Homo sapiens: one gene and its partner. The protein of the gene in region 2 purifies or fractionates together with the protein of the main gene of each other region. This does not show direct contact. Each region holds a gene or a part of one and is shown on either strand. Other genes may lie near its edges. The genes, in order: PUDP and ENOPH1.

Region 1 (3,823 bases), on a different chromosome or scaffold from region 2:
AGCGATTCTCCTGCCTCAGCCTCCAGAGTAGCTGGGACTACAGGCATGTGCCACCACGCCCAGCTAATTTTTGTATTTTTAGTAGAGATGGGGTTTCACCATGTTGGCCAGGCTGGTCTCAAACTCCTGACCTCAGGTGATTCGCCTGCCTCAGCCTCTCAAAGTACTGGGATTACAGGCATGAGCTACCACGCCTGGCCTAAAATTATTTTAAATAATTGTATAATCATGCCTATTTTAATAATGTCATGATTTAATGTCCCTACTTTGTCAATTGTTACACAAAACAATCAACAGACTCATTTTTTCCGAACACCTACAGTCATTCAGGATAAGGTAACAGATATCTGGAGCACCTGACCCTCTAAAGATTTTTAAAAGGAAGGCATGGACAGATCATAATGTAGTTCCAGGACAAAGTTAAATAAAGCAAATGAAATCAAGCAAAATCTAGCACTCCACTGGGTGTAGAATTCATAGTGTCTAACATTCAATCAAAAATTACCATGCTGCAAAGAAGCAAATACCACCCACAATCAGGAGAAATAGACACAGAAATGATAGAGACAGATGGAATTAGCAGATCATGACCTTATGTAACGGCTTTATAAGTATTATAAACACACCTAAGATAGACACTATCAGAATAAAAAAGAAAAACAAAAGACCCAACTACATGTTGTCTACAGAAACCTACTTTAAATATAACTACACAGATAGATTGAAGATAAAAGGATAGAAAACTACATACCACATAACTATTGCTCAAAAGAGAGCCAGGTTACTTACATTAATAACAAACAAGCCTTTAGAACAATGAATGACTATCATCAGGGATAAATAGGGACATTTCATAATGACAAATAGATCAGTTCATCAATAAGACATAATTCTAAATGTGTAAACATCAAATAGCAGAGCTTCAGAATGCATAAAGCAAAAACCAATAGAACTGAATGGAGAAACACAAACGTAGAAGGAAGTTTAAAACTCCTCTATCAGTAATTGATAAAACAAGTAGACAGAAAAGAAGTAAGGACACAGCAGACTTCAGAACCACTGTCAAGCAACCTGACCTAATTGACGTTTATGTAATACTTCTCCCAACAACAGCAGAAACCACATTATTTTTAAGTGCACGTGGAACATTCAACAAGAAATATCCTATTATAAGGATAAAACTATTCTCAAAAATTATAAAATACTTAAAATCATACAGAATACCTTATCTAACGATGGTAGAATTAAAATAGACATTAATAATAGGAATGTGGAAAATCACAAATATTTGGATGTTACACTTCTATGTAAGACATGGGTCAAAGATGAAATCACAAAGGGAAACTAGGTAATATTTTGTAGAGAACTAAAAACTACCAAAATTTCTGGGATGTGGCTAAAACATTGCTTCGATGAAAACTGATGGCATTGAGTGATATGTTAAATAATAAGGTCTCAAATAAGTGATCTAAGTTGCCACATTGAAAACCTGAAAGAAAGAAGTTCAATGATTTAAGCTTTTACCTTAAGAAAGTGAAGGAAAAGAGCAAATTAAACCCAAAACAAATAAAAGGAAGGAAATAATAAACATGAGAGAGAAAATCAATGAAATAAAAGTAGAATACAGAAAACCAACTAAATCAAAAGCGAGTTGTTTGAGAAGAGCAATTAAATTAGTAGACTCCTAGCTAAACTGATCAAAAAAATAAAGAAGATCCAAATGTACTAACATTAGCAGGGAAAGAGGGGACAGACATCACTACAGATTCTAACATCGATAAAATGATAAAAACTTAATTATTATAGGATTAATGGCAACACATTTGACCATTTAGATGAAATGAGATAATTCTTTGAAAGATATAAAACTCCCTCAAGAAGACACAAATAACCTGAATAGCCTTCTGCCTATGAAAGGAATTGAATTTGTAATTAAAAACCTCCTTCCCACATCTAGGATCAAATGGCCTTGCTGGTAAATTTACCAACTTCCCAAGAAAAAAAGGATGCCAATTCTAAACAGACTTTTCAGGAAATTGGAGGGAACACCTCTCAACTCATTTTACATTTTACATCAGCACTTCCCTGATCCCAAAACCAGACAAAAGCCAGACAAGAAAACGACAGATCTCATGAACATACATACACATACCTCCACGCATAAAAACAATATTCAATCAGTGTAGAAGTACTCCACCTAAAGAGCTTCTACAGAACTTGAATCCATTAGTTAAAAATACTAAAATGCCACACTATTTCATTAGTTTGCAACAACCACTGATTAGTATCACAGAGGACTATATTTATTAGCTAAATTTCAATTTAAACCTTAACCTAACTGATGGATGAGATAAAAGGCTCTAATTTTTTTAAAAAAGAGACAGTCACGTGTGGCAGTGCGTCCTGTAACCCGTTACTTGGGAGGCAGAGGCAGGAGAATCGCTTGAACCTAGGAAGTGGAGGTTGCAGTGAGCCGACATAGCGCCACTGCACTCCAGCCTGGGTGACAGAGCCAGACTCCATCTCAAAAAAAAAAAAAAAAAATTAGCCAATCATGAACTTCTGTCTGGATATAAACAGTGATTAAAGCTGAGTATCAAAACAATCTGAATTTAAAACAAGATTTTTAAATTGCTAGATCACACAATTTTAAACCAATATTTTAAAAAATGGAGCACACTTAAACACATGGCTCTGTAAAACACACTGTATAAAAATTTTCTTAAAGTACTTTGGTGCTATTAATTTTAAAAACTTAAACAGATTATTTTATTATTATTGTTTTGAGACAGGATCTTGCTCTGTGACCCAGGCTGGAGCAGAGTCAAACAATCATAGCAGCCTTGACCTCCTGGGCTCAAAACGATTCTCCAGCCTCAGCCTCCCGAATAGCTGGGACTACAGGTGCATGTCACCATGCCTGGTAAATTTTTTTATGTTTTGTAGAGACAGGGTCTCCCTATGTTAGCTAAGCTAGTCTTGAAGTTCTGCTTCAAGTAATCCTCTTGCCTCGGCCTCTCAAAGCCCTGGGCTTAGAGATGTGAGCCACTGTACCCGGCCGATTATTTTATTTTAGCTTATCCTTCTTGCATTTCTATTGCTGTGAATTATTTCTAAGGTGGAGTAGATAAACAAACACACACCAATGTGTCTAGACTGGAATGCAGCTCAACATTCTTATTGATGGAGAATGAATCAAAAACGGTTTTGGACGACTGCTTTACACCACCACAACATACTGAGATCTCCAAAATGCTTGGGACTCCTATGAAGATGAAAGCCAAGACAAGACTATGACCACAGTCAGAGATTACGGGACATCCGTCAATTATACGCCCTCTTTGGGCCTCAATTTTGTCATCTGTCAAAGAGCAATGATTAACGTTCCTCATGGAATTAATTCACAAGAAGAACAATGCCTGGAAAATGACATGGGTGAGGAAGCCCCAGATAAATGTTAGGTAGTGTCGTTATCATCAGATATAGCTCCAGTGTATCATCAGGAATGAACGATCCTAATCACCTGATTCAAAACTGCCTGATGCCTTCACAAAGTTTTTCATCTTTTAAAGAGTGCACACAAACTTTGTCTCACTCAGTGGCTTTCCCTGAGAAGTAAAAGACGAAAAAATGCAAATGGAGTTCTGTTCTAGGGAGAAGCTGGTTAATTATGTGTATAAATGAACTCCAGTTCCCAGCTCCTAGAATTTGGTGTGCTTCCGTGGGTTTACAGGAAGGGCAGAGAGACAGATATCTAGGTATCTGTTGCTCCAAACAATCAGCTCACAGGACACATCTCCAGGGGAAGAACTGGGGAATGTGG
Region 2 (3,823 bases):
AGGCGTGTACCACTACTGCCTGGCTAATATTTGTATTTTAGTAGACACAAGGTTTCACCATGTTGGCCAGGCTGGTCTTGAATTCCTGACCTCAAATGATCCACCCACCTTGGCCTCCCAAAGTGCTAGGATTATAGGTGTGAGTTACCGCGCCCAGCCATTATTTGGGATATTAACTTAGTTTTTCATTCTGCCTCAGCAGTGGAAGTCTGGGCATGTGGTACCAAAACAGGACCAGAGAGAAAAGAGCAAGCAGGCAGACAGCTCCCTGCCTCATCCCAGCTGCCGATGACCCAAGTTCTGGCCTAAGTGTGTATGGGGCCAGCAGAAGATGAAGGGCAGGAATAAAACCTCCTTACAGAGAATCAAAGGGAGCTAATTTCATTTTGAAGCCAATTTAGGGATTATTTCTATTCTCCAAAATTAGGAATAATTTCTACAATTGCAACTGAGGAAATGGCTTAAATGAGAAGAGAAAGATCTGAAATTATAGATGTACTATGTGATCCCAAATACAAAAATTAAGTGGCTAAACACAAGAATATGAAGAAACTATAAGTGGTCTAAGGACAGGGGTTATAATTCTTAATATTGAGATAGAGCAAAGGTCCGGGGATCACAAATGGAACTGTGCATTTAATCCCAGAACTGGCTGGCTCAACTACCTACCCCTTATACTCACAACCCCGCTTGCATGCTCCTTCCCATGACAACTCCTCTAAGTCTTCCTGTTAATTTCCTGTGTCATAGTGTGTGTGTGTGTGTACATAGCGATGGCTGGGAAATCACGGACAAGGAGTTAAACGAGAAGAGTTAGTCTTTTCAATGCCACTTCCCCACATGCAACCCCCAGAGTTGGTTCATTCTTTTTTGAGACAGTCTTGCTCTGTCACCCAGGCTGGAGTGCAGTGGCACAAACACGGCTCACTGCGGCCTCGACCTCCTGGGCTCACCTGATGCCCCTGCCTCAGCCTCCCATGCAGCTGGGACCACAGGAGTGAGCCATCATACCCAACTAACTTTCTGAATTTTTCTGTAGAGACAGAGGTCTTACATTGTTGCCCAGGCTAGTGTCGAACTCCTGGGTTCAAGCAATCCTCCTGCCTGAGCCCACAGAAGTGCTGGGATTACAGGCATGAGCCACCAAGCCTGCCTTCACTGCTGTGTTTTTTTTTTTTAATTCAAACATGAACTTGAACCAGACACTGTTTCTTTATATAAAACCGTAAAACTGTTTTATTTTTCAAGGATCCCCATATAAAGTTTCTTTAAAGAGGCAATGTATTTGTAGTGCCAGGCTCAGTTCATATCCTGGAGTATATAATATAAGAAGTCTATTACTCACCTCGAGTAACATCTGTCAGAAACAAAATGTTGTTGGTTGAGCACCCAATGCTGTCTGCAATCTTTCGGTAACTTTCACTCTCTACTTTGTGTCCAATCTTGGTATCAAAGTGACCATCAACAAGCTGAACAAAGAGAAGGGGAAAGACTGGCAATACAAATACACTTGCATGCCCCTCATGCCTTTCTCTGAAATACATGACAATCACAATTACTTCATTCGTTCAGTATTTTCTGAAAATCTACTTAATAGGGAACTTTATGGAGGCTATACAAAGTAAAAATAAAGATTTTATAGCAACAGACATTTGGAAGAAGAAAACTACCAGCTCAACATACATAAGATCATTTCATAATCTACCTGGTTTTCACTACCGTTCATTTTACATCTGAAATAGTTTAAAATAAACATGCCCTACATCCTACCCTTAAAGATGATTTGCACTCAAACTACTCACTGGATTGAATTTTACTCCTGATGAAAGATTCTGAACACTGTCCTTTAATCTTACGATGAAAAAATTTCTCTAACCTGCCTCATGAATAAGCTATTATTTTACTTACAAGAAATTCTCATTTTCTAGTTAAAACGTTTTGAAATTCTACCCAAGGGCTCGTCTATGTCTCTGCCCTCTTGGAAACAATTGGAGTCAAATCTGTAACTTGCTAATTTGACCAACAGTAATTAAAATAAGTCCATATTTAGGGTCAGTTACTAAGATGTGATCTTTTGAATGTTTTCAGAACTTTTCACAAACTAAAAACAAGCATAGTAAGCACTCAAACTGGGTTTGGCCAATGGGAAGGTAAAAAAAAAAAAAAAAGTAATTTTAAGTTTTTTTTTTTTAAAGTTAAAACTGATTTTGCTTATTTTCTTTTTCTTGCAGTTTGCCTCACTTGGTAACTAGAGAGTAAAATTCTTATTAGTGAACTCAGTAGGTACTTTTGTCCTGTCATGATTGTCAGAGAGAGCAGAAAAGAAGTTGTATCTGTATTAAGAGAACAGTCACCAATGATTAAAGGGTTTCATTATTAATATTTGATTTAAAAATAAGACAGAAAGTAGGAAAATACTAAAATTAGAATATTACAACCTCCAAAGCCAAAGTGTTCTTTGCACATGGTAGGTGCTCAATACATATTTATTTTAAAAACTTGTCTGGCCAAGTTACCTATTGTAAGTAACCTATTATAAGTTCGGTCTATATTCAAGTTACCTATTGTAAGTTAAAATAAGTAAATTTTTTTTTTTTTGAGATGGAATCTCACTCTATCGCCCAGGCTGGAGTGCAGTGGCACGATCTCAGCTCACTGTAAGCTCCGCCTCCTGGGTTCAAGCCATTCTCCTGCCTCAGCCTCCCGAGTAGCTGGGACTACAGGTGCCCGCCACCACGTCCGGCTAATTTTTTTTTTTTGTATTTTTAGTAGAGACGGGGTTTCACCATGTTAGCCAGGATGGTCTCGATCTCCTGACCTCGTGATCCGCCCACCTTGGCCTCCAAAAGTGCTGGAATTACAGGCGTGAGCCACTGCGCCCGGCCGGTAAATATTTATTTTTAAAAAGTATCTGGTCAAGTTACCTATTGTAAGTAACCTATTTTAAGTTAAGTCTATATTCCAAGTTACCTATTGTTAAGTTTGGTCTATATTCAGCTAATCAGCACTTCTTTTTAAAACCCTAAATGTAGTCACTTCTTTCACTGATCACCCCATCCTCCAGGGGGTGCAGGGATGATGACACAGAGGGGCTAGCAAGAATTTTCTCATGTACATGAAATGCAACAGGTGACGACCTTATTACATTTAAAAATGTGCCTGGTTCTCCTATAATAATGCTGGTTCTTCTTAAATGAAATCTATATTTCTTCAAAGAGCCAGAAACAAATGAGTGCACCTTGTTCTCTGCTGTATTCAAAAAGTCTTTATATATTTCTCAGGACTGCACAATCCTATTTTGCATCCTAACTGATTTTATTTTTCAAGACACAGAATAAACTTTATATAACAACCTTATATAGAAGAAACTGTAAATACAATATAATTAAAAGTGATTATTTTCTTCTTACCTAATTTTAAACAACCAAAAAAAAAAAAGCATTCTATTAGTTCCAATTAGTTTTCCATTAAGATTCATTATTTTATGCTTTGATAGCGTCAAAACAACAAAGTAAACTAGGTAACCTACCTCAAGAATATCTCCCTCCGTAGAATGCCCGAATAACAGTTTCTGTGCCTCCACACTCCCTGAGGAATAGATGTACACCTTCATTCCGGCCTCTCTCCACTTCCTGACTGCTGGAACTACATCTGCAAAGAACCTAGAGGGAAGACCACTAAGTTAAAATACAGGAACACCTCATCTAGCCAGATAAAAACCTGTCAAAACAGATGCCATATGTTTCTCTCTTTGTGCCCACATGGTAACCTGAGAAGCAGCTCCCTGAGACTACAAACTCCTGCAGTTCTAATAAACATACTG

What was found.
Region 1: the proteins of ENOPH1 (region 2) and PUDP fractionate together in Homo sapiens (co-fractionation; one large-scale study listed by BioGRID). This does not show direct contact.

The regions. Positions count from the first base shown.
Region 1 is NC_000023.11:7,078,393-7,082,215, forward strand, and holds part of PUDP (pseudouridine-5'-phosphatase), read right to left. Parts: intron 1-3,823. UniProt on the Homo sapiens protein: Dephosphorylates pseudouridine 5'-phosphate, a potential intermediate in rRNA degradation. Pseudouridine is then excreted intact in urine.
Region 2 is NC_000004.12:82,454,561-82,458,383, reverse strand, and holds part of ENOPH1 (enolase-phosphatase E1), read right to left. Parts: intron 3,663-3,823; coding exon 3,530-3,662; intron 1,470-3,529; coding exon 1,346-1,469; intron 1-1,345. UniProt on the Homo sapiens protein: Bifunctional enzyme that catalyzes the enolization of 2,3-diketo-5-methylthiopentyl-1-phosphate (DK-MTP-1-P) into the intermediate 2-hydroxy-3-keto-5-methylthiopentenyl-1-phosphate (HK-MTPenyl-1-P), which is then dephosphorylated to form the acireductone 1,2-dihydroxy-3-keto-5-methylthiopentene (DHK-MTPene).